Homo sapiens: one gene and its partners. The protein of the gene in region 3 purifies or fractionates together with the protein of the main gene of each other region. This does not show direct contact. Each region holds a gene or a part of one and is shown on either strand. Other genes may lie near its edges. The genes, in order: GLB1, CTSA, KLHDC9 and NT5DC2.

Region 1 (7,029 bases), on a different chromosome or scaffold from region 3:
ATCTATGTTTAGCCCTTGAAGAAATTGCCAAACTATGCTCCCAAATGTACCTTCTTATCTTTCTACCAGCAATGTGGGAAGATTCCCTTTCCCCCATGTCCTTTCCAACATTGCCTATTGTCCTTCTTACTATTTAGCCATCTTGGTGAGTGTGAAGTAGTATTTCATTTTGGTTTTGACTTGCATTTCCCAAATGATTAATAATGTTGAACATTAATCAGCCACTAATTTTAGTTTATAATAGACATTTTACCAAAGAAGGTATACAAATGCAAATGTACTTAGCCATCTTATGCCTTCTTTGGTAAAATGTCTATTCAAGTTCTTTGCTCCTTTTGTGACTGGGCTGTTTGTCTATTATTGAATTGTAAGAATTCTTTACATATTCTAGATATAAGTCCTTTGTTAGATATATGATTTGAAAATTATTTTTCTCCCAGTTTGTGGCTTGGATTCTCATTTTCCTAATAATGCTTTTTGAAGAACAAATATTTTTAATTCTGATAAAGTCCAATTTATCAATTTTTGTTCTTTAAGGATAATGCCTTAGGTGTCAAATCTAAGAAGTCTTTGCCTAACCCAAGATCATGGAGATTTCTCTCCCTAGAGAGAAATTTTAGAAGTTTTATAGAGGAATTAAGTTACAAATTAATAATTACAAGATATTTTTACAAACCCAAAATATGTGGAAATTAAACAGCATACTTTTTTTGTTTGTTTGTTTTTGTTTTGTTTTTGAGACACAGTCTTGCTTTGTCACCCAGGCTGGAGTGCAGTGGCATGCTCTTGGCTCACTGCAGCCTCTGCCTTCCAGGTTCGAGAGATTCTCCCACCTCAGTCTCCCAAGTAGCTGAGATTACAGTTACTCACCACCACGCCTGGCTAATTTTTGTATTTTTAGTAGAAATGGGGTTCTGCCATGTTGCCCAGGCTGGTCTTGAACTCCTGGCCTCAGGTGATCCACCCGTCTCGGCCTCCCAAAGTGCTGGGATTTACAGGCATGAGCCACCACACCCAGTAAAACATACTTTTTAATAATCTATGGTTCAAAGAAGAAATCATATGGGAAAGTAGAAAATATTTCTAACAGGATGGCTGTGGTGGCTCACACTTGTAATCCTAGCACTTTTCGAGGCCAAGTTCACATAAAAACTTACATGCAAGTGTTTACAGCAGTATTATAATAACTATAATAACTATAAGTTGGAATGAATTCAGATGTCTATCCTAGCACTTTTCGAGACTTCATTTGAGGTCAGGAGTCCGAGATCAGCCTGGCCAACATGATGAAACCCCGTCTCCAATAAAAATAAAAAAAAAACAAAAAATAAAAAATAAAATAAAAATAATAAAAAAAATTAGCCAGGAGTGGTGGTGTGTGCCTGTAGTCCCCGCTACTCTGGAGGCTGAGGCAGGAGAATTGCTTGAGCCCGGGAGGCAGAGGTTGCAGTGAGCAGAGATCACACCACTGTACTCCAGCCTAGGTGACAGAGTCCATCTCAAAAAAAAAAAAAAAAAAGAAAATATTTCAAACAGAATAATGAAAATACATTTCAATAAATTTTAAACAAGCAACACATAAATAAATAAAAGGGCATTTTATTAAACACACACCATGTACATCTTTTGCCTTCTCCTCCTCCAGCTATTAACATAATTTTCTCCTCTTCTTCAGAATTAAATTTCTCAAAAAGAACGTTTATATTCAAGTATTCCTGTTCGTATTCCTTACCCTGGTCTTCTCTATAGAATGCAATCTGGCTGGGAGATGCTTCACTCCACTGGAACAAGGCTTACTGATTCCCAAGGGCCTCCTTGCTTCTAAAACCACCGAAGTGCTTCTGTCTTTATCTTATTTGTCCTCTTGGCAGCATAAATGCTGGTTTTCTTCCTACTTGTTTGGTCTCTCCTCTTCAGTCTTCATCATGTTTTTGTCCCTCAAACATCAGCCTTACGTCCTCTTTTCTTCCCTCTGCATCCTCTCTCCTTGAGAGACCTCATCCAGCCCATGTTTTCAACAATCATCTATACAACAATGATCTTCTACATACATTCCTGGCCCAGATCCCTGCCCTGAATTCCCAGCCTATAGATCCAACAACCCTCCTCCAATACTGTCTTTCCCAGCCATTCTCCAAGGCCTCTGCTATGGTCTGAATGTTTGTGTCCACCCAAAACTCATCTGTTAAAATTCTAGCCCCCATGTGATGGGTTAGGAGGTGGGGCCCCCTCTGGGAGGTGATTAGGTCATGAAGGTGGAGCCCTCATGAATGAAATTAGTGTCCTCATAAAAGAGACCCAAGAGAGCTCCTTTGCCCCTTCAGCCATGTAAGGACATAGAGGGTGCTGTCTATGATGAAGTAGACTCTCACCAGACAGCAAATCTACTGGTGCCCTGATATTGAAGACTTCCTAGCCTCCAGAACTGTGAGAAATAAATGCCTGTTGTTTATAAGCCACCCAGCTTATGGTATTTTGTTATAGCAGCCCAAATAGACTAAGGCAGCTTTTCAAACACAATTGGTCTAAATTCAAACTCATGACCCCCCTTTCTAAGCCTAAGTCCCCTTCTGAAGCTGCTTCTTTCAGCAAATGGTACCATTCTGCCCAGCTGCAAGCTTGAGACCTGAGTCATCCGAGACATATCCCTCTCCCCAAACCCTCCTGTCCAATCCATTGTCACAATTTATTGATCCAACTTTGAACATCTCTCAAATAGTTGATGTCATCTCCATCTTAGATACCACCATCCCAGTTTCTCAATGAGACTATGGTCCAGCCTCCTAGATGGTTTCCTCGAATCCATAAGTGTCCTTACCCAAACCATTCTGCACAATGGGGTCAGAGGAGCTTGTCAGATCACAGTCTTATCATGTCACTCTCCTGCTTCAATGGCTCTCAACACAAAGACAAAACTTTAACGTGGCCTATAAGGCCCGTCCCAATCTAGTCTCTACCTACTTTCCACACTTGACATTTTCCCCTCCAACCCCATGGCCTTTGCACAAGCTGTTACCTCTCCCAGGAACATGCTTTCTTCCCTTCTTGCCATGCTAATTCTTACTCATCCTTCATATCTCTGACAAGCATCACTATCTTAGGGAAGGCTTCCCTGACCTCCCTGACAAGGCAAAATGCACCAATTATTATCAACCCCATAGCCCTTCTTAGCATCCATCACAGCTATGGTTTTACTTTTTAATATGAGTCTGCCTCCCTCACTAGACTGAAAGTTCCATGAGGGAAAGGACCATGTTTGGTTTTATTCATGATTGTATCCTTAGTGCCTGGCACACACCTTGGGCACATAGTGGCCACAGAATGAGAAGTGTGTTGAATGAGTGATGGTAAGGTGATCTAGGATGAAAACAGGACATGAGGGAGAGGAGAAGGCGGTGAAGGAAGATATGCCAATGTCTTCAAACGACAAGGCGGAGTGACTGGGAAGTGAAAATGGATGAGGAAGAGTGGAGAAGCAGACAGCTTATGATAGAAGCCCCAGGGGTGTGGGGCTGGATGCAGGTGGGGATATTCTGGGAGCACTGGGCTTGGCATAAATGAAAACCAGACAGACTCTCCCAGAGGGATCCACCTCTTTGTCTTGACTGGATTGTCCTCAAGATAAAGAGAAAGCACCCCTATAATCAGCATCAAAAGGGGTCATGATTCTTCTTGGAGGAGGCAGGATGGTGTCATTCACTACAGGAAGCCAATGACAAGGGGGCAGATGGCAGCACCTCCGAGCTGGCCACTGAATCCCTGAAGATCTGCCACAATCCGCCTCCTGAAGAATGTCCGAAACGCCACACTCAAAACCATCACACGATATCTCACTAACAGCTCTTTGTGATTCTTTCTCAGACACTAACAACCAAAAGTTTAGGCCTGAATTCAAACCCTTCCCATGAAGACACGTACCTTGGTCCATCCAGGAAACTGGATAAAGGTGTCCTGGGGCAAGTCTGGGATCCCACTGGGAATGGAGAAGTTCCCCATATAAAAGGCCGGGAGCGTGTAGTTGGATGAGTTGTGGGCCCAGGCTTCATCATGGTGGCCACTGTCACGGTGTCCCCAGCCCCCCAGGTGGCTGCACACTGCATCCTCAGTGTCCAGTGGAAAGATCGTCCAGTCCGTGAGGATATTGGAACTGAGAGTCAGGTTAGAAACCAAACCCTGCAAAGCAGAAACAGAGCACAGTGAGCTGGGGAGGGAAGGAAAAAGGCTTCACATGTCTCTGCATTCCAGGGAAATGGGAAAAGCAAACCGGGATACAAAACACCAACAGGAAATGAACCTCGAAATATGTGTACATCGAAGTAACACAGATCTAACTGGAGGTTGAATTACAAATCCTTGGGAAGAGATATATTCCCCAAACTATAGCTTTCTCCTTTGCAGGTCATGATGTCTCTATAAAAGGCCCAGAGTTTCTGCTTCTACAGAAAGGGCATTGAGTTGCTAGAGTGATTGATCCCAAATTCCCAAATTTTCAGAGTTTGGCTGAGAGCCACTGCTAGAATAGAGAAAGATGGGCACCAAGAAAGATGGGCCAGGCGCAGTGGCTCATGCCTGTAATCCCAGCACTTTGAGAGGCCAAGGCAGACAGATCACTTGAGGTTAGGAGTTCAAGACCAACCTGGCCAACATGATGAAACCCCATCTTTACTAAAAATACAAAAGTTAGCTGGGTGTGGTGGCAGGTGCCTGTAATCCCAGATACTCAGGAGGCTGAGGCATGAGAATCGCTTGAACCTGACAGGTGGAGGTTGCAGTGAGCTGAGATCGCGCCACTGTACTCCAGCCTGGGTGTCAGAGCGACACTCCATCTCAAAACAAAAAGGGATCCAGTCTCTACAAAACATACAGAAATTGGCCTAGTGTGGGGGCATGCACGTATAGTCCCAACTACTTGGGAGGCTGAGAAGGGAGGATTGCTTGAGCCCAGGAGACAGAGGTTGCAGTAAGCCGAGATTGTGCCACTGCGCTCCAGGCTGGGTGACAGCAAGATCCTGTCTCAAGATGGAATCTGGGGACAGAAGGAATGAGTGAGTGTGGGATACAAAGGAATAGTCATCCCACTGCGGATGGAGCAGGTACGACGGATGCAGCCAGGAGCAAATATTGGCCTTGAGCACCTCAGCCATCATCACAGGGAGGACCACACCCGAGTCACTCACCTGTTATGAGGGCCAAGTGAGATAACATACATGAGAATACTGTGATACCTTAAGAGGATAGGAAGGTAATGATGACGATGGCAAACCTCAGACCTGAATTCAGAAGCTGCTCTATTTGTTCCACACAGGCCAGGGCTGGGCTGTCAAGGCTCAGCTAACTTCCCCTTCCCTGGCTTGTATGTAGGGAACTTCCCCATTCCCAGTGGAATCCCAGATACCAAGTCTCGATTGCCCATTTAATAATTTGATAAATATTAACCAGGTGGCTGTATGTCAGGCTCTTTGACAGGTACTGGAGACCCAGAGACTACACAACAGAGTCGAGTCACTCCCATGGGTCAATGTGGCCTGTGAGAGCCAGGCAGGAGGCCATGAAGTCCACCCTGAGCACAAGAACTATGAGAGAGACATTTATACTGGAGGCAAAGGTGGCCTGCACACAGCTATTCCCTAAGTTCCCTAAGATGTAATTGCCTGATCTCAAGAGGGTCAGGAAATAGCCCCAGACACCTGTCCTGCCCTAGCCTGGGTGGTGCCATTGTTCCCTTGATAAGGCATTCTCTCCTCTCGCGGAGGTTGAGCTCCCTGAGAGAAGCCTGTCTCTTGACACCTTTGCATTCCCCAAAGCACCTGGTGGGGCATCTCGCGGAGTGGGAGCTTAACAAATGCTTGCTGAATAATGCTCTAAAAATATGTGTTAGAAAAACTTATTTGGGCTACACATCTGGACACAGGAGTAATCAACAGAGGTGAGAGCCAGTGCCCCAAGGGAAGAGGCTTCCTACAAGTGAAGAGTTTGCCACAGGCTAACCATCCAAACCCATAAAACAGGGCAGAACAGAGGCTCAGCTGGCTTTACTGGCAAAGGAGTGCCTTCAGTGAGCTTGGTGGTCTTTTAAAGCAGAGGAAAAGCATGGTGGAGGGGCTTCCTCCTTCTGTTTCTTTCTATAGGATGACCAAACTCAAACACAGGGGAAAGGTTCTGTTTGCAAAGCTCAACTTTCTCATCACCTACAGAGGAAAACAGCTCTTCAAAATAGCTCAACTACTTCTTTTTTTTGAGACAAGGTCTCACTTTGTCACCCAGACTAGAGTGCAGTGGCATGATCATAGGTCATTTTAATCTCCAACTTCTGGACTCAAGCAATTCTCCTGCCTCAGCCTCCTGAGTAGCTGAGACCACAGGTGCATGTCACCACACCTGGCTAAGTTTTTAATTCTTTGTAGAGGTCTCACTATTTTACCCAGGCTGGTCTTGAACTCCTGGCCTCAAGTGATCCTCCTGCCTTGGCTTCCCAAAGTGCTGAGATTACAGGTGTGAGCCACTGTACTGGGCTTCAACTTCTAAGTTGTCACCCCTTAAACCTTAGTCTTGACAGTGTGGTTTGTCCTACCTTAAAATCGTTGATATATGCACCATAGTTCACACGTCCCATGTTCTCTACCAGAAGGTCCAGAGTGGCTCCAGCTTTCCCTGTTATGTTCAGAGTGATCACATTGTTTCGCTCAAGGACTCCCTGGGGGATCTGTGGGGTTCAAGACCAAATGACAATTGAATTGAGGGTAAGAAGGTCAGCAAGGAGAGGCAGCATGCTCAGTTAATTTAGCACTCATTTTCTTGCCTTGAAGTGTCACCAGACTTGGAAAGAAATGCTTTGATAGCATCTTAGCCCAAGTTACCGGCCAGGTCGGAAAGATCCCCCAATCACTGCTTCCTAAACAGGAAAACTGCCAGACACAGCTCAGAGCATGGAACGGTCTAAGCTGGTTTCCTTTGCCCTGGAATGTTTTACTGCCAACTACTTTTAGTGGAAAATTCCAGGGGAGGATTCTTACTAGAGTAGCTGCTTCG
Region 2 (5,015 bases), on a different chromosome or scaffold from region 3:
TTAATCTTAGACTCCTAAAAGCCGTTGCACACACTGTGACTTCTTGGAGCACTCTTCTCCCATCCCAATACCTACTAATTGTTCAGGTCTTAGCTCAGAGGTCACCTCCTCCAAGAAGCCCTCCTTGACACCCATAGTCTACACTCCTACAGCCTCATTTTAACACCTTGACATGGAATTATCCATTAGATTGAGTTCCTGAAAGACAAACACTCTGTCTCTTGATCTCTAAACTCTGGCCTCAATAACTGAATGAATAAATGAGGCTCCCCTCTCCCCAACACAGGGATTCCTCACCATCGGGGCTGATCTCCACTTTGCCAAAGGGCTGCGAGAGGTGATTGAGAAGAACCGGCCTGCTGATGTCAGGGCGTCCACTGCCCCCACACCGTCCACAGCAGCTGTCTGAGCCCTCAATCCCCAAGCTGGCAGCTGTCATTCAGGACCCCAACCCCTCTCAGCCCCTCTTTTCCCACATTCATAGCCTGTAGTGCCCCCTCTAACCCCCAGTGCCACAGAGAAGACGGGATTTGAAGCTGTACCCAATTTAATTCCATAATCAATCTATCAATTACAGTCCGTCCACCACCTCCCTGTGGGCTGTCCTGAGCTCTGTTGGGTTCCTGGGATGGAATCAGTGCATCATAAAGGGCATTCTTTAAGCAGAGAAGGGGCCAGGCCACCCCATTCAGGAACTGCTGCGGGAATAAAGTGCTAACTTGCCCCCAGGCTGTCTATGGGAGACCCTGGGCCCAGTCTGGGATGTACAGGGCTCTGGGAAGGGGGCAGTCCTGGCGGCAGAACCCGGCCTGCAGGGGCACTTTGCTTAGAAGAGGACTCTCCTAGCGGGAGAGGCTGGGAGGGGCTGCATCAGGCCGTGGAGCTGGTTGCTGTGGTCATCAGTATGGCTGCTTGTTCAGGAAGCGGGAGAACATGGTGAAGGCAGCGAGGGGCTTGTCGGTGGGAACCATGTGGCCGGCGCCCTGAGGAGCAATGTTCGTGAGCTCCTGACCCCACCATTCCCTCCTCCCCATATAACTGCTCACTCGGGGGCAATTCCTTCATCCCAAACCCTTTATTCTTCCCAGAACCCTCCCCACCCCTCTCCAAAAAAACTTGCCCATACAGGGGCCAGATGGTGACCCATGACCCAGCCTAAAAGGCAGCCAGAGGGAAAGGACGGGTGGGTCCTGCTCCTTTGCCTCCGGCCCAGTTATCTCTCAGCAGGCCCAGTCCCTACCTTGATCGTGAGAAAGGCGATGTGGGAGAACTCCTTCACGAAGCCGGCAATCTGCTCCCCGCTGTCCCCGTACTTCACTAACCAGGGCCGGCGCTGCACCTCCATCTGCCCCACCAGGAAAGACATCAGCCTACAGCAGCTGCATCCTTGCTCACAGCTACCAGCAAGACCTTAGGGCTGGGAATTCCTCCACACTTGCCCTCTGTGGGCCAGAGCCAGGCAGCCAGCTGGCCACTCCCAGGCATACCCGCTCCCAATCCTCCACAGCAGCCCCTATCCCAGGGCCAGGAATCTCTACCTTACCTTCTGGTTGAGGGAATCCACAAACCACTCATCCCCCATGAAATTGCAGGCCATGTCTACATCTCCATTATATAATAGGATCTGGTATTTCTAAAGCAGGATGGGGTAAAAATGAGGGGTGTGGAACAAGCCCAGTCCCCAGCCCTTCCCTAGTTCAAGGCCTACCCCTCAGGAAATTCAAGGGGCCAAGCTAGATAACACGAACCAGGGAATTTTCATGTTTTCTAACGACTTACTGCATGTCCAGTATTCTACTAAATGTTTTATCTGTGAAGGTAGATATCATTATTATCCCCATTTTACAGATGGAGAACCTGAGGCTCATATTTAAGAAATTTGCCCAAGATTATGTGGCTAGTACAGGGACTTGCACCCAGGCCATGTGACTCCAGAGCCCATGCTATTAACCACTGTGCTGGACAGAACCTAGTCCTAACTTGGCCCTGCCAGTGCTTCCTATATCACCTTGTGCAAGGTCTCCTCCCACCCTGGACCTCTGCTGGCCCATTTTTGGCATGAATGAAGCTCTTCTCACCCTTAAGACTCCGTGGCTGATGCAGACCCCTAGGCCTCCTATAGCAGGACAGCATGGGTGGGGACAAACCCAGGTTCAAATTCTGACCCCACCAATCACAGGACCCTGGGCTTCGCCTTTCGGAGTTTCAGCTTCCCTTGTCCTGACAGGAAGTCTCAAGGGCCCCCAGCTTGCTGTGCTACTCTGGGGTCCTAAGGCTGCTGGTGATCCAGCTGTGCTCTCCCCACTCACCTGTGAGCTAAGCAGCTTCAGATACTGGGAGTTCATGCTTCGGTAGAGACGGCGGTACTGTAAGTTTACCAGAAAGCTGCCGGGAACATACGAGCAGGCCCCAGGAAGACCAGGTCGGGGCGAAAAGTAGTCAACAGATCAGACCTTCTCTCCTATCTCCAAGCTCCAACCCAGAAGGCAGACAGCTGGGTTCCACTCCCCTTTTTGGGGGGGGGCCACCTCTCTAGGACTGACTTGGATGTTGGGCTGGATGGGCTGGGATTCAGACAGCCTCAACTCACCACCATTTAGAAAGGTACAGGGATGCTGGGCGTGGTGGCTCACGCCTGTAATCCTAGCACTTTGGGAGACCGAGGTGAGTGGATCACGAGGTCAGGAGTTCGAGACCAGCCTGACCAACATGGTGAAACCCCGTCTCTACTAAAAAAAAAAATACAAAAATTAGCCAGGCGTGGTGGTGCGTGCCTGTAGTCCCAGCTACTCAGAAGGCTGAGGCAGGAGAATCACTTGAACCCGGGAGGCGGAGGTTGCAGTGAGCCAAGATCGCAGCACTGCACTCCAGCCTGAGTGACAGCAAGACTCCATCTCAAAAAAAAAAAGAAAAAGAAATGTACAAGGGACGCATTTTGGTTGTTACGAGGACTGGGATGCATCTGGCATTTAGTGTCTAGGGGCCAGCAGGTGTGGGAGTCACAACATACAACAGGGTAGAGTGTGAGCACTGACCAATCAAAATGGACCTGAGCAGCCCTGCTGGGCCCAGTGTTACCCTTTTACTTGGGGTTGTGGGGGGGGGTGGCCACAGGAGACTGGACATGGAAGTTAACAGTTTGTTATTGTTGTTTGAGATGGAGTTTCACTTTTGTTGCCCAGGCTGGAGTGCAGTAGCATGATCTCAGCTCACTGCAACCTCTGCCTCCTGGGTTCAAGCGATTCTCCTCCCTCAGCCTCCTGAATAGCTGGGATTACAGGTGCCCAACAGCACACCTGGCTAATTGTTGTATTTTTAGTAGAGATGGGGTTTCTTCATGTTGGCCAGGCTGGTCTCGAACTCCTGACCTCAGGTGATTCCCCCACCTCAGCCTCCAAAAGTGCTAGGATTACAGGCGTGAACCACTGCGCCCAGTCGGAAGTAATAGTTATTAACCAATGTGATGGCCGGGTGTGGGGACCCTCGCCTGTAATCCCAGCACTTTGGGAGGCCAAGGAGGGAGGATTGCTTGAGACCAAGAGTTTGAGACCAACCTGGACAACATAGTGAGACCCTGTCTCTACAAAAAAATTTTTTAAAAATTAGCCAGGAATGGTGGCATGTGCCTGTAGACCCAGCTACTCAGTAGACTAAGGTGGGAGGATCGCTTGAGCCTAGGAGGTTGAGGCTGTAGTGAACTGTGAAACAACAACCAATGTGGCTACGTAATGAAATGGGGCTGGGCGGGGTGGCTCATGCCTGTAATCCCAGTACTTTGGGAGGCTGAAATGGGCAGATCACTTGAGCCCCAGAGTTCAAAACCAGCCTGAGCAATGTGGTAAAACACCATCTGTACAAAAAATACAAAAACTTGTTGGGGGTGGTGGTGCGTCTGTAGTCCCAGCTACTGGGGAGGTGGGAGGATTGCTTGAGCCCATGAGTTTGAGGCTGCAGTGAGCTATGATCACACCACTGCACTCCAGCCTAGGTGACAGAGTGAGACCTTGTCTCAAACAAAAAAATTTTAAATTTAAAAAAGATAAAAGAATGAATTGGCTGACTCTCAATCCACTGAGGGGTCAGGGATGGATGTTAAACATCCTCTACAGCTCATCTCATTGAGAAACTCTACACAGAAGATCCCTGAGAAACCTGCCGATGCCCACAAGCCCCAGCAACCCACCACCCCAAGTCACAGGTGGCCACGGAACCTCACTTGCACATGTCCCATTGTGGCAGCTGCTCCGGGATGTTGAGGGCCTTCCGCACGTACGGGTTGTTGAGGTAGGTGGAAGCAGCTGTTGTGTTGGTGCAGGGGGGGTCCATGCGCACTTTATCCCCTGAGCGCAGCAGTGCCTGGAAGGCACAGACAGTGGGTCAGGGCCTCTGCTTCCCTGCCCCTCCCCCTGCCCCCACCTCACCAGGAGGAAGCCCACGCCCTCGCACACCTGATGCCACATCCGCTTGAGTGGCAGGCGAGTGAAGATGTTGCCCAAATCCTGGACCACAACAGTGTCCTTCTCATACCTGCAATGTGAGGTGGGGGAATGGGTGTGGAGCCTCCAGATGGGGCTGGGGTTGGCTCCAGGGGCACCCAGCAGCACCTACCTAAAATGGCTGGGCACCCCTCCAGCACACGGGGCATAGAGATTGTAGATGTTGAGGCCAGAGTTGCCCACGATGCGGGCCACTTCCTGAAGCTGCAATGATACACCAAGCCACCATGCTTTACAGATCCCCAGCCTCTCCACGACCCCACCAAGTTGTCCCAAGATTTACTGCTCTTGGATTTCACCTCTTCACCCACTTTTTTTCACAGGTAGGGAAACTGAGGCTCAGTGGCAGGAATCTTCCCAGACCTGGGTCCAAATCCTAGCATCACTGCCTCCCAACACTGTGACTTCAGACAGTGATTTCAAAATTCATAGCCCTCAGTTTCCTTATCTGGAAAATGTGGGTAGTATGATCTCATTTGAGGGGGAATCTTGAAGCTTAAATAATCTACATAGACACAG
Region 3 (7,134 bases):
AGTATGGGTTAAGGGACAAATATCTTTATTTTGACACTAAGACCCCACTGTGGGGAAATTCTACTCCCTGAAAAGGCCCTATGTATTGAAGCTCACTCAGGTCTTCATCAAAAATTGAGACCTTATGACTGTGCCCGGGGACCCCAAACTGGTGCTATAGTTCTAGAAAGCAGCCAAAGGGAAGAAGTCTGGCCACTTCTGGAAAGTTCTAAAGCTCCTTGCAGGAAAGTCAGATGGCTGGCTCTGGTCAGCAGGAAAAAAAGGGCAGTAACCCAGAGAGAAAAACACAAAAGTCGAAACAGTGAGAGACAGATCTCAAGGCACAGTGAGAAAAATGGAAACTTAAAGACAGAAAAATATACAAATGCTCCTTGACTTTTATGATGGGGTTATGTCCTGATAAGCCCATTGCAAACTGAACATATAAGTTGAAAATGCATTTAATATACCAGTCGCTAGCCCTAGAAAATATCAAAATTTAAAATTCAAGTATGGGTCCTACCGAACACGCTATCATTTTTGCATCACTGTAGTTTAAAAATTATAAGTTGGGTTGGGCATGGTGGCTCACACCTGTAATCCCAGCACTTTGGGAGGCTGAGGTGGGCGGATCATGAGGTCAAGAGATCGAGACCATCCTGGCCAACATGGTGAAACCCCGTCTCTACTAAAAACTCAAAAAATTAGCTGGGCTTGGTGGTGCGTGCCTATAGTCCCAGCTACTCAGGAGGCTGAGGCAGGAGAATCACTTGAACCCAGGAGGCGGAGGTTGCGGTGAGCCAAGATTGTGCCACTGCACTCCAGCCTGGTGACAGAGCAGGACTCCGTCTCAAAAAAAAAAAAAGAAAAAGAAAAAGAAAAATTGTAGGTTGAACCATTGTAAGTCAGGGATTGTATTGGAGACACACACACACACACACACACATGCGCGCGCGCGCCCGCGCGCGAGTTATTGAAGGGGGAGAATTCAAAGAGACAAAGTGGCTGAAGTGGCCAAGACAAAATCTGAAACAGAGACAGAAGGACCCGAAGAGAAATTTCTGGATGCCATGATTACTCAAAGTCCTTCTGTCTTCTGCCCTCAATTCCCACCGCTCAGCAATGACCCAATGATACTTTCCTACTCAACATTGCCTACTCCCTCAACAACATAAGCTTCTCCCCATCCTTATTCCACCTCTCCATCATTCTCTACCTTGGCTGATTACCACTCCCCTCCACCCTAAAGCCTGCTTACAATTTCACCTTTCTCTCAATCTCCTTCTAGCTCACATTCAGTCAAAGGAGCTCTCAAGATCTGACCTCATGCAGTCTCTTTGCCTGGTCATTTCTCTGTCCTTTTGTCCCTGTCTTTATTCTGGCTGAGCTGAGAGCAAAGAGTCAGAAATGGGGCCAGGATGGCATAGGGCCAGGAAGTCAAGCAGCTAGAATGAGCTGTGTGAGAAATAGAGAAGGGTCAGGGTACAGCAGAAGAAGAGTCAAAGAAAGGGCCTGAAGGATGGGGACAGCCTGGGAGACATGGGCAGAGGGAACTGTGGGAGTCTTGAGTGCGATTAAGACCGTTTGGTGCAATTGTTGGTCTTTCTTTCTTTCTTTCCTTCTTTCTTTCCTTCCTTCCTTCCTTCTTTCTTTCTTTCTTCTTTCTTTCTTTCCTTCCTTCCTTCTGTCTTTCTGTCTTTCTCTCTCTTTTCTTTCTCTCTCTCTCTTTTCTTTCTTGCTCTCTTTTCTTTCTCTCTCTCTTTTCTTTCTCGCTCTCTCTTTTCTTTCTCTCTCTCTTTCTTTTCTTTCTCTCTCTCTTTCTCTTTCTCTCTCAGTCACCCAGGCTGGAGTGCAATGGCACAATCGCGGCTCACTGCAACCTCAGCCTCCCAGGTTCAAGCGATTCTCTTGCCTCAGCCTCCAGAGTAGCTGGGACTACAGGCATGCACCACCACGGCTGGTGAATTTTTTATTTTTTATTTTTAGTAGAGATGGGGTTTCACCATGTTGGCCAGGCTGGTCTTGAACTCCTGGCCTCAAGTGATCCACCCACCTTGGCTTCCCAAAGTGTTGGGATTATAGGCGTGAGCCACCACACCCAGCCCAATTGTTGGTTTTCTGTATGTACCGAATAATGCTAAGAACCAGAGATGGTTCCAGGGTCAGAAAATGGGGTTAAGGAAGGGAGAAGATAGAGTAAGAGCTTTGTGAAAGTTTGAGGCAAGGGGGCGTAGATTTGGGGCTAGGATAGACATCTAAGGCTAGGTAGGAAGCTGGGTGCTTGCTTGCTAGAGATCATATAGACTCTTGGCCAACTGAGACAAAGCCAACATCAGGGGATCACATCAGGATTACGAGACTTTCAGGATATCCAGTCCCTGCTCTCATTTCTGGACAGAGGTTGTCCCTGGATATTATTAGCAGGTGAAAGCAGGTTCACAGCCCTGGCTGCCCTTTTCCCTGTCTCTCACAATTTTCTCTCAGTTCCCCCTTTCACTTATCTTAATGCCCTTTCAGTTTGTGTATCATTGACAAGGTCATTATAGACCACTGCAGATGCTGTCCTGCGGTGTGAAGCATGTGTCATACAAGTCCAGGTTGGCTGGTTTGCTTTCTTCCTCTCTCTGTTTCTCTCTTTCTGGCTTCTTTTCTCCCTCCTCCAAAATATGGATTTGGTTCAAACTAACCTAAGAAGGTAGGAGTCCTAGGCAGTTCCTCTCCCAGGGTCTTGGGATGGCAAAGCAATGGACAGATGCTTCCAGCTATTAGGAGGAACTGGAAGCATCTAGGTACAGAACTGGAGAGGGTACAGCCAAGGAGTATGTGAGGTTCAAGCTCTATGTCTAACTAAGATGCCTACTGCTAAGGACTCAGAGTCAGAGAGGAAGCTGGGAGAGAGGAGCTGGAAAGGCCCGTGGGGTGGGGAGTTCCCATTTCTATCCAGGAAAGGCAGAAAGTAAGTCTAACAGAACAGCCAAGACTTAGGCAAAAGCAAGAGCCTAAAATGGACATATAGGCCAATAAGGTTTAAGCAAAATTGCCCCACCCCTGAGGCAAGCCCTTGCCTAATCCTAGGAGTATGACAGATCTGAATCCAGCTGTTGGGAGGTTAGCCAGTGAGAAAGAAGCCTGAGGGAAAAGACTGACTTTTAAATTTCAGCCAAGGACAGTAAAAGTTAGTGATTTTTTAGAGATTCTTACCATGATTTTGGAAAACTGAGAATACTGCCTGTCATACTCAGGGAAAGCTATAGTTGGGAGGGCAGAGACTTTCAAAGCTATTGTTGAATCTTGGCTTTAAGGTACAGGTGGGGAACAGGTCCTGGTAATCTTCCAATCTCTGTAACTGTGCCTTTCCTGCCCATGCCATCCCCATGCTGTGTTCTCTGAGGACCAAGAGTTGGGAAGAGGAGGGGAAAGCCCTGCTGTGCTATCAGACCCTGCATTACATGCCCATCCTCACTGCAGCCCTGGCCACTGTCTCCTTTCTTCCTTTCTTTATTTCTTTTCTTTTTTTCTTTCTTTCTTTCGCCAGGGTCTCACTATGTTACCCAGGCTGGTCTTGAACTCCTGAACTCCTGGCCTCAAGTGATTCTCCTGCCTGGCCACTTTCTATGGTCTCAGTATCTCAGGTATGATGGGGAGCAAGGTGATGTGTAGAAACCAAAGGCCACAAGTAGCAGTCATCATTCCCACTTACAGCCCAGTCCCAGAGGACACAGATCCTGTTTTTGCCCCACACCAGCTGTGTTGGGAGGAAAATTCTGTCTGTATTTCCTCCTTCAGCTGAAAGCAGAAAGCTTGCATCTGGGCCTCTTCAGTTATCACTTGGTCCTGGGGGACAGAGTTAATATCTGGAAACTGGCTTAAATAAAAGATATCAGGGAAGGGTAGGAGTCTGTTTTTCTCATTTTCTCACTCTTCCCCCACTTCACCCTTCTAAGGCTGCGTGGGTTCTCTCTCTCTCTCTATCTCTCTCTCTCTCTCTCTCTCTCTCTCTCTCTCTCTCTCTCTCTCTCTGTGTGTGTGTGTGTGTGTGTGTGTGTGTGTGTGTGTGTGTCACCTGAGAGACTGGGTTCTGCTACCCTCTAGTGGCCAGAGCTGAAAGGACTCTCCCACCCAATCAATCGGGACCTTCAAGCCTTTGGGAATAAACGAACAGCCTATTTGATGAATGACAAAACTGAGAAGGCCTAGAGAGAAACAATGCCTTTGAGGGTCAGGGGCATAGTTGGGACTAGAACCCAGGTCTCCTGTCTCTCGGGCCAGTGGTCAGTCCACTTTCACTTCCCCACCCTCTGACTTTTGCTTCTCCTTCCTTGCTCATCCCTGGGGTGGTTAGCCCGAGTAAGAAACCCTGAAGCCAAATGATCCCTCCCGGCCCTAGTGGAGCAGCACCTGCACCTCAAATGTCAAAATCGCAAATCAGTTCACAGCGGAGATCACAGGGGTTTATTCTAAGGACCCGACTGTCCTCCGACTTTCTGAGGTTAACAATCTTGCAGGATTTTTATTGACCTGATACAGCTCCCGTAGCCTTGGTGGCACCACCATACGGTTCCCGATAGCCACCCAGGTGTCCTGTCTCCACGGTAACTGCTGCTTTGCGACCTTCGGTTTGCAGCGGTCGCGCTGCAGCCGCTGCAGTGGTTGCTGGGCGACCACGGAGAGAAAGCCGGGACTTGAGGTGGGAACCCCGGCTGGCGTCCGGTAGGGGGAGGTTCCCGGGGAAGCCCGCGGAAGGCGAGGTGCCTGGCCTGCCATGTAGGGGCTCGTTCCAAGCCGCAGACCCCACCGCCCTCCCTCTCCCCGGGGCCCATGGCGGTGGCCGTGCCCCCGGGTCGGGCCGCAGGCTCAGGCTGGGCCTGGAGGCCAGTGGCGCGGGACGCGCTTTTGGCTAGAGCTTTCCATTCATGCACCGAACTGCGGGGACGGTTCTATCTCGTAGGTGGTCTCCTAGCAGGAGGAGCGAGAGAGCCCAGCAGCGATACGGTGGTTTTCGACCCAGCTAGGGGCCAGGCCGTACGATTGGGAGCCCGGGGCAGCCCCCCGCGCAGTCACCACGACGCGGCACCCGTGGACGGGCGTTGGCTCTGCGTGGTGGGCGGCTGGGACGGGTCTCGCCGCTTGGCCACAGTGACCGCACTGGACACAGAGCGCGGTGTGTGGGAGGCGTGGACAGGGACCCCTGGTGACTGCCCCCCCGCCGGCCTCAGTAGTCACACCTGCACCCGAATCTCTGACCGAGAGCTGCAGGTGGCTGGCCGGGAGGGCGGTATCCACACTCAGCGACGCTATGGAAGCATCTACACATTAAGGCTGGACCCCAGCGCCCGCACCTATTGGTATGGCACCCTCCGCCCAAAACCTTTCACTCTCATCCACACTCTCGAAAAACAAAAGCCTAAGCAGATTTCTCAGGCAATTTATCCACCTCCTCACTCTAGCACCCTCCTTCCAGGGGAACCTACCATGTTTAAGCTAGCTGAGCTCTCTACAGTATTACCCTCCCTCTTATCCCACCTACCGCACTGCCCCATGCCTCTTCTCCATCCATCCTTGGCAAGGGCGGTGGCACTTACATTTTCCAGAAAACCCACTCAGCCCTGAATTTCTGCATGTCCACAGCTACAAGCAAGAAGGCTGCCACACAGCCTCACGCTCAGGTCACTGTGCGGCCCTGCTCCAAACTCCTGGACCCCATCCAGGTCATCAGCTATTGCTCTTTGGAGGTTGCAACTTAGCTGAACCAGAAGTAGCTGGGCATTGGAGTCATGGGAAAATTAAGGTATTAGCTCCTCACACATCTTGTTTAGGATGGGAAGAGGCTAAAATTGTGATGCCCAGGTCTCTTCGGACAGTCCTTTCTTTCTCCCCAAGGAGGAACCACCTGTTGCTCCTCATTTGATGGAACAGCTTGCAAGGCTTGTGAGCAGTGGGCAGGGGTCCCAGAAGGGGCCCCATGGACTACGGCATCACTCATGTTCTGTGGTCGGGCCCTTTGCTGTGCTGTTTGGTGGAGAAACTCTGACCAGAGCTAGAGACACCATCTGCAATGATCTCTACATCTATGATACTCGTGAGAGCCAGACTAATGGCTGAAGGGGGGGAAGGTGGGAAGATGGGGGAACCTGAAGACTACAGAAAGAGGATGGAGTGATGGGGTAGGGAGGAGGAAAAATTAGTTGACAGGAGTTAAAGGAGTACACAGAATATTAAGCATTTGAAGAGGCCTACAAATCAAGTGAGCAGAAAAACAATGGGCAAGCCCTTGGTCATGTTGAATTCTGTGAATGACAAAGTGCTACTGCCTCAATAACCACCCTCTGCCCGTATCCAACAGGCACATCTCCTCCTTTGTGGTTCCACTTCCCCTGTGCAGATCGTGGGATGAAACGCATGGGCCATCGCACCTGCCTTTGGAATGATCAGCTTTACCTGGTTGGGGGTTTTGGTGAGGATGGCAGGACAGCCAGTCCACAGGTTTGCATCCTGGACTTTATCTAAATAGTGCCAAGACACATCACTAAGCCTCGTTTTGTTTTGCTTTGTTGCAAACCTATAAAGCGTTATCACCAGAGCTATCTGCTTCACTTCAAATGCTTATTAAATTTCAATCTGAGACTCAAGATTTGTCTCTGAAATTTTTGGGGGGAGGGGGAAGGGCAGTAAATAAGTGGACATACCTTTATTTGCAAGGAAAGGATAAAATAAATATGGGTCCTACTCTCATATTATGAGTCATTAACCTGATGGAAACAAAAACCACACATCATATGCTGTTCCGTGTCTCAAAACAATTTCCACCCCCAAGTGGGAGAAAACTTCAGGCTACAGCTAAGATTCTGACCAAAACATTTAATTAACAAAAAAATATTACAATAGCAGAGAAAATAATAATAATAACAATAAAGAGAAATTAGAAGTGGGAGTCAGGGTAGAAAAAAATGCAAAGGCCTTGGTCCCTAGGAGACCAACACTCCAGCTGAGCTGGCCTTAGCCCCAGCCCCTTCTGAGTTTTCCTTGGCTGCTGGCTTCTCATCTTCTCCCATGAGACGAATGTTGTGCTTTTCCCGGAATTCATTTAGTTCTTTTCCCTTTGCCTGAAGCTGCTGTGTCAGTGTCTCAATGATCTTCTGTATCTAGAGGACAAGT
Region 4 (7,000 bases), on a different chromosome or scaffold from region 3:
GGGAAATTGGGGACAGGATGCTCATAGGCTCAGGAAACATATCACCCATTTAATCCTGCATATGTGCAGGTGCAGAGTGAGATTGCTGCACAGAGCAGCACCTTCCATATGACAGTCTTAGTAATTCTGTAGGTTGGTACAATTTTTTTTTTCTTTTTAAAAATGTTTTCACAGAGACAGGGTATCGCTATATGGCTTAGACCAGTCTTGAACTACTGGGTTTCAAGCAATCCTCTCGCCTCAGCCTCCTGAGTAGCAGGGACTGTAGGTGTGTGCCACCATGCCCCACTTGGTACAATTTTTTGTACCCTTTTAGAAACTAGGAAACAGGCCCAAGAGGTGAGGTGACATTCCTGAAGTCATAGCCATGAGAGGGAGGGCCTGGTCTTGTCTGGCTGACCTCATTGCATGTGGCCTTCCTAGCACATCTCCTTCCCTTTCCTTTCCCTTCCACTTTCTCCATTGTACACATAGGGAAACCAGGGCAGGTAACATGGGGCCTCTCAGCCCCATCTGCCTCCTTGGGACCCCAGAGCCCATGCCACACAGTGCTCTGCTCAGCACCCTGCTGTGGGCCTCAAAGCCAACTGCAGCCTCCTGGGAGCAGCCAGGGACTTGGGGTGGCCACGACCACATCCCCAGAAGGAGCAACCTGGATAATGGCCCAGAACCTGACATCACGTCCTGACTGTCGTAATTAGCAATGTTCCCTGGCTAGAGCCAGCAAATGTCATTATATGGGCTTGCGGGCAGCTGAAATCTGATTAGAGGGGCCTCACTCTCCCTGGGCTGTGGGAAGTGCACAGAGCTGGCAGCCCGATCGGCAGAGGGGCTCCCCCTCCCACTAATGTTCCTGAGCCCCAGTCCCAGCTCTGGGCAAGGTAGAAAAGTCAGCATCCATGGCCTCAACCCCCTAGTCTGGCCATACAGAGCCAGCCCCTCTGGGTTGGAGTCCTCAGTGCCCACATGGTATCCTCACACATAATCCCAGGGAGGCTGAGAGATGAGGCCAGGGGGCAGGGCAGGGCAGCTGAGAGGAGCAGAGGAGGCGCTGAATTGTGGGGGGCCAGACAGTGGTGTTCCTGCACGGGTTTTGAGCAAGTGGGAGGCTTTGCTTTGTAGAGCATCCCAAAAGCAGCTGTTCTGGGGCTAGGCGGTGAGGAGTTGAGTGACTGCTGCCAGGGTTCTAGCATGGCCTTGTGTCTGATGGGGCTTAGTGGTGAGGGCCTGGAGTAGTCACGGGCTCAGTATACCTGGTGGGCTATAGGAGATAGTGTAATGTAGGCAGGTGTAACCATGAGGAGGAGCTCCAGCCAGGGGCTCTGCCTTACCCTAACTGCGTGACCCTGGGCAAGTGACTTCTCTCTGGGCCTGTTTGACCATCTCCAGCACTGGAATAAGAGGTGCCATTGTGGGGCGTTTCTGAGGCTCACAGGGCTAGGTCCCCACAGAGTGCTCAGGAGCCATAGCTGCTGCAGGGATCATCATCCCCATCACTGCCTCCCTGCATCTCCTTCCTCTAGACCTCCTGCCCCCCGAGGTCTGCAGTCTCCTGAACCCAGCAGCCATCTACGCCAACAACGAGATCAGCCTGCGTGACGTTGAGGTCTACGGCTTTGACTACGACTACACCCTGGCCCAGTATGCAGACGCACTGCACCCCGAGATCTTCAGTACCGCCCGTGACATCCTGATCGAGCACTACAAGGTGAGACGGGGGTCCTTGCCACCAACAAACCCAGGGCTTGGAGGCTGGCCAGACCCACCTTGGCCTAAGCTCAGGGCTGAGTCGTGGGGCTCCCCTGGCCCTCTTGCCTGGCAGCTGCCCTGGGCAGGTGGCTGGATTGACCCCCTGGGGTGGCCACCCAGCCAGCAGGTCTGGCAGGGCTATTGGCTTAGGCCTGGCCCCTTTCCCCCGGCAGTACCCAGAAGGGATTCGGAAGTATGACTACAACCCCAGCTTTGCCATCCGTGGCCTCCACTATGACATTCAGAAGGTGAGTGGCTGGACCTGTATAGGGGCTCCCTCCTTGGCCTCCTCTTGGTATGGTCATTACCCCTCCGTCCCATCCAGCTGGGGTTCTGGCATGGGCTGAAAGAGGCTGGCTTGGGGCCACGGTGAAACTGCCTCCTCACCATCCGTCCTGCCTCCCTGGCGCCCCCAGAGCCTTCTGATGAAGATTGACGCCTTCCACTACGTGCAGCTGGGGACAGCCTACAGGTCAGTCGGCTCTGCCCCAACCCCACCCCCGCCCCACCCTACACTGCTGTTCTGGCTCAGGACTACCTTGGACTGATGGTATCTTGGGCCTGCTCAGGGGCCTCCAGCCTGTGCCAGACGAGGAGGTGATTGAGCTGTATGGGGGTACCCAGCACATCCCACTATACCAGATGAGTGGCTTCTATGGCAAGGTACTCCATACCCCAGCAGCCAGCCTGCCCCATGGACATGTGCCCATGTCCCAAGGCAGATTTGGGGCCCTCGTCTCCAGCACTGAAGGGGTTGGGGTCCCAAAGGGTGTCTGAGACAATGGCCCCCTCCCCAGGGTCCCTCCATTAAGCAGTTCATGGACATCTTCTCGCTACCGGAGATGGCTCTGCTGTCCTGTGTGGTGGACTACTTTCTGGGCCACAGCCTGGAGTTTGACCAAGCACATCTCTACAAGGACGTGACGGTGAGGATGCTGGGCCTGCCCTCGGATGGCAGGAAAGACTAAGTCCAGCCACAGTGGGACAGCCCCACCTGGGCCCTGCTGTACCCTCATTGTCCTCCACTGCCCCCAGGACGCCATCCGAGACGTGCATGTGAAGGGCCTCATGTACCAGTGGATCGAGCAGGACATGGGTAAGTGTGGACAGAAGCCCTGCCGTGGCCGGCCTGAGCAGGTGGCAGGACTGACCCTCACAGACTCATCTGCCCCATTAGAGAAGTACATCCTGAGAGGGGATGAGACGTTTGCTGTCCTGAGCCGCCTGGTGGCCCATGGGAAACAGCTGTTCCTCATCACCAACAGTCCTTTCAGCTTCGTGTGAGTCCAGCCCCTGTGGATGGAGGGACAGCAGGGCCAGGGCTCTGGGTGGGGAGGGCAGGCACGGAGCCGCCCTCAGACTACTTGCCACCTGAAACTCCTCCACACAGAGACAAGGGGATGCGGCACATGGTGGGTCCCGATTGGCGCCAGCTCTTCGATGTGGTCATTGTCCAGGCAGACAAGCCCAGCTTCTTCACTGACCGGCGCAAGTATGGGCATGGTGGGGGTTGCAGGGCCAGGGAAGGGGAATAGAGGCCCCACCCCAATGAGGGGACTGAAGCAGGAGGCCAACCTGGCCCTTGCCCACTGCCCAATGTGCTTGGGGTGAGAACACCCCCTTGCTGGCATGGGTCCACTTGAGCAGGTGGGCCTTTACGGAGGAGGGATGGGGGTTGCCCGGCCCGTGGCCCAGCCACAGACTGGAAGTCATGCCCTTTACCTGCACCCCAGGCCTTTCAGAAAACTCGATGAGAAGGGCTCACTTCAGTGGGACCGGATCACCCGCTTGGAAAAGGGCAAGATCTATCGGCAGGTAAGGGCCATCTGGGGAGAGCAGCATGTGGTGGGGGCATGGGGCCTAGCTAGGGCCCCAGGCTGTGCAGAGGCAGCCTCTGAAGAAGCAGCACAGCTCCTTGGCCCTGAGCAGCCTCACACAGGCAATGGCTGGCAGGGAGCAGGTCTGGGTGGCCTCGAGAGCTTGACCTCTGGGTCAAGCAGCCTGGCTTTGAATTCCTAACTCCACTACTCAGCAGAGGGAGCCTGGCCTGGTTGCCTGACCTCTGTGCCTTGCTTCCCTTGTCTGCAAAAGAGGTGTAATACTCTCTACTGAAGCTGTGGTATAAAGCTCTCAGAATGGCCAGTGCGCCAGGCACCGTGGCTCATGCCTATAATCCCAGCAGTTTGGGAGGCTGAGGCTGCAGGATAGTTTGTTGAGCTCAGGAGTTTGAGACCAGCCTGGCCAACATGGCGAAACCCCATCTCTACTAAAAATAGAAAAAATTAGCGGGGCATGGTAGCATGCACCTGTGGTCCCAGCTACTCCAGAGGCTGAGGTGGGAGGATCACTTGAGCCCAGGAGTTCGAGGCTGTGGTGAGCTGTGATCACACCACTGCACTTTAGCCTGGGCAACAATGCAAGACCCTGTCTTCAAAAAACAAGAATGGTCAGAGATCGTGAAATGCCTGATGAATGGTGTCATTTCTTGGGGTTGAGCACTCTGCTGCAGCCAGAACAAGTCTGGTTGGGGGCAGCTCACTGGGTGATCTAGAGAAACTCCTCCTTCCTACCTGGCTAGGAAAATGAGAGGGACTGGTGTTGAGGTGGGATTAGGTGTCTATGAGCAGGCAGTGATTAAGGTTTAGCCCTGGCTGGAATGCGGAAATCCTGGCTGAGCTGGGCTTCTTCAGGCTAGGGGTTCTAAAGGCCTTGGGGCTGGAGGAGGGGGAAGCCAGCAGCTGGCCAGGGGAGCAATGTGGAGGTGGCCAATGCCCAGCCTGGCCTGCAGGAAACACCCCCACCCTCTCAGCCCTGCCCACTTCTCTGCCTCCCACCCTTCCGCACCCAAACTCTCCACAGCCCTCGGGCCCAGGTGCGTCCCTTCAGCTCTGAGGGCGCTGCTCTCCCCTGCCTTGGCATCCAGCCTCAGCTAAAGAGGGTCATACACCTTTGTGAGAAACACATGACTTTCTTCCCTGGCAGCTTTCAGGCAGTTCTTTATGCCCAGTATTCTGAAGCTGCTTTCCACTGTGTGTTGGATCCTGCCTGTCAGTCACTAGGAGTCTGTCAGTCTCCTGCCCTTTGAGACTCTTTCTCTTGGTCTGGGGCCTGCCTGGGCCTCTGCCCCTCCACTTGAACTTAGTTCAGCAATTGGCTTCTCCCACACCACCTGTTTCCCCCAGCGCTTCCACTTCTGAGGCTTGGAATGCACAGACTGCTTCAAGAACTGTGCTTGCTGGGTGTCAATTATTCTCGCTTTTGGGGTGTGGACTCCTACCCTGGTGGCTGCTGCCTGAGCACTAGTCTGGTGATTCCTGCTCTGGGCCGCTCAGTTTCTGCCACCCTGTGAGCTTCCCCAGTTACATGTGGGCCTGGCTGAGTGTCTCCATCTTTCTCTGGCTCCAAGATGCTGGTGGCCCCGGTGAGGTCTGCCATTGGTCTGCCAGGTCCCTCTGCACTGAGGCAGGGGAGGCCAGCAAGGACTTCAGGGCTGCAGAGCCTTCCCTGCAGTTTCTACCTTACAAACAGGGATCTAATCCCTAACCTGGGGTACGTGTGAGACCACAGGGAGAAGGCCCTCGAGGCATGGGCACCATGCCAGGCCTGTAGGGCACCTTCCTGCAGCAGGCAGAATCCCCTTCCCAAGTAGGAGGGGAAAGTGACAAGAACCAGGGCCCAGGGAGGGAGCAGCAAGGCCATGGGAAAGGGCAGCCAGCATCCGGCTGGATTTGGGCTGCCTCTGGGGATTCGGGAGGGAGGACTGGTGGAGGACAAGGCACACTTGGCTCAGCAGCATTCCCCTCCTCTCCCTAGGGAAACCTGTTTGACTTCTTACGCTTGACGGAATGGCGTGGCCCCCGCGTGCTCTACTTCGGGGACCACCTCTATAGTGATCTGGCGGTGAGGGAGGCAGGGCTGGGCTGCAGTGGGGGAGGGCCAGGAAACCCCCCCCCCCCCGCCCCCAGCAACTGGCGCTGAGCCCAGTTCTGCCGCCCCACCCACCAGGATCTCATGCTGCGGCACGGCTGGCGCACAGGCGCCATCATCCCCGAGCTGGAGCGTGAGATCCGCATCATCAACACGGAGCAGTACATGCACTCGCTGACGTGGCAGCAGGCGCTCACGGGGCTGCTGGAGCGCATGCAGGTGTGGGCCGGGGTGGCTGTGGGAGGGCCAGGGCGGTAGCCTCCTGGGTGCACACACCCAATGCACACTTTGTGTCCCCAGACCTATCAGGACGCGGAGTCGAGGCAGGTGCTGGCTGCCTGGATGAAAGAGCGGCAGGAGCTGAGGTGAGCAGGTGGGGCCAGGGCAGGAGTCCCAGCCAAGCCACCACCCCAGGCCCACCCCTTGAGCGCATCGTGTCTCCCTCGCCAGGTGCATCACCAAGGCCCTGTTCAATGCGCAGTTCGGCAGCATCTTCCGCACCTTCCACAACCCCACCTACTTCTCAAGGCGCCTCGTGCGCTTCTCTGACCTCTACATGGCCTCCCTCAGCTGCCTGCTCAACTACCGCGTGGACTTCACCTTCTACCCACGCCGTACGCCGCTGCAGCACGAGGCACCCCTCTGGATGGACCAGCTCTGCACCGGCTGCATGAAGACCCCCTTCCTTGGTGACATGGCCCACATCCGCTGAGGGCACCTTTATTGTCTGGGACAGGCCCTCAGCCCCTCCTGCCCCATCCACCCAGACAAGCAATAAAAGTGGTCTCCTCCCTGTGCATGCTTCTGCTTTCAGCCCCAGCCTCGTCACTTGACTGTGAGGATCCTCTGGGTGTCAGGGAAGTCCTCCTCCAGCAGTGAGTCCTAGAAGAGCAGGGTTGGTGGTGGAGGGTGTGACCAGGGCCTGGGCCCATCCCACATCTGCCACACTTCTTCACTTCCATGCTTACATCGAAGGGTTCACAAAAGGTGTCGCTGCCAAAGACAGGGTTGGGGACAGAGACCAGGGTGGGGTTGGTCCCTTCTTGCCACGGTGAGAAGTCGTCATCAGCATCATCTTCCGCCTGGGAGCAGCAGAGGGGTGAGTGGCGAGGCGCCTCAAGCGAGATCCAAGGACCCGCCATGGCAGCCCCAACCCAGCCCTACCTGGAAGGCAGAGAAGCCAAAGCCCATGGGCTTGCCTCGGGCACGGAGGTAGAGAGCTCCGGCCACCAAGCCAAGCAGTGCTCCAGCGGCAAGCACAGCCCCCACGCCTGCCGCCACAGGTGGGGCTTCAGGCGCCAGCACTGCCTGCTACAAACAAACA

What was found.
Region 1: the proteins of KLHDC9 (region 3) and GLB1 purify together in Homo sapiens (affinity purification with mass spectrometry; 2 studies listed by BioGRID and IntAct, with this or other methods). This does not show direct contact.
Region 2: the proteins of KLHDC9 (region 3) and CTSA purify together in Homo sapiens (affinity purification with mass spectrometry; 2 studies listed by BioGRID and IntAct, with this or other methods). This does not show direct contact.
Region 4: the proteins of KLHDC9 (region 3) and NT5DC2 purify together in Homo sapiens (affinity purification with mass spectrometry; 2 studies listed by BioGRID and IntAct, with this or other methods). This does not show direct contact.

What each region holds. Positions count from the first base shown.
Region 1 is NC_000003.12:33,010,138-33,017,166, forward strand, and holds part of GLB1 (beta-galactosidase isoform a preproprotein), read right to left. Parts: intron 6,704-7,029; coding exon 6,572-6,703; intron 4,174-6,571; coding exon 3,919-4,173; intron 1-3,918.
Region 2 is NC_000020.11:45,894,335-45,899,349, reverse strand, and holds the end of CTSA (lysosomal protective protein isoform b preproprotein), read right to left. Parts: intron 4,701-5,015; coding exon 4,609-4,700; intron 4,528-4,608; coding exon 4,449-4,527; intron 4,357-4,448; coding exon 4,217-4,356; intron 2,386-4,216; coding exon 2,310-2,385; intron 1,634-2,309; coding exon 1,544-1,633; intron 1,346-1,543; coding exon 1,241-1,345; intron 984-1,240; coding exon 900-983; 3' UTR 530-899; downstream 1-529. Other genes in the region: PLTP (phospholipid transfer protein isoform a precursor), read left to right, coding at 287-409. UniProt on the Homo sapiens protein: Protective protein appears to be essential for both the activity of beta-galactosidase and neuraminidase, it associates with these enzymes and exerts a protective function necessary for their stability and activity.
Region 3 is NC_000001.11:161,093,739-161,100,872, forward strand, and holds KLHDC9 (kelch domain-containing protein 9), read left to right. Parts: upstream 1-4,622; 5' UTR 4,623-4,797; coding exon 4,798-5,324; intron 5,325-5,607; coding exon 5,608-5,767; intron 5,768-5,840; coding exon of another isoform or gene 5,841-5,859; coding exon 5,860-6,058; intron 6,059-6,322; coding exon 6,323-6,486; 3' UTR 6,487-6,608; downstream 6,609-7,134. Other genes in the region: PFDN2 (prefoldin subunit 2), read right to left, coding at 6,945-7,121.
Region 4 is NC_000003.12:52,523,858-52,530,857, reverse strand, and holds the end of NT5DC2 (5'-nucleotidase domain-containing protein 2), read left to right. Parts: intron 1-1,523; coding exon 1,524-1,708; intron 1,709-1,922; coding exon 1,923-1,997; intron 1,998-2,165; coding exon 2,166-2,221; intron 2,222-2,318; coding exon 2,319-2,412; intron 2,413-2,546; coding exon 2,547-2,675; intron 2,676-2,784; coding exon 2,785-2,845; intron 2,846-2,926; coding exon 2,927-3,029; intron 3,030-3,139; coding exon 3,140-3,241; intron 3,242-3,482; coding exon 3,483-3,564; intron 3,565-5,562; coding exon 5,563-5,649; intron 5,650-5,754; coding exon 5,755-5,895; intron 5,896-5,976; coding exon 5,977-6,041; intron 6,042-6,126; coding exon 6,127-6,388; 3' UTR 6,389-6,471; downstream 6,472-7,000. Other genes in the region: STAB1 (stabilin-1), read right to left, coding at 6,502-6,558, 6,645-6,758, 6,841-6,987. UniProt on the Homo sapiens protein: Promotes dephosphorylation of tyrosine 3-monooxygenase TH which decreases TH catalytic activity and leads to reduced synthesis of catecholamines including dopamine, noradrenaline and adrenaline.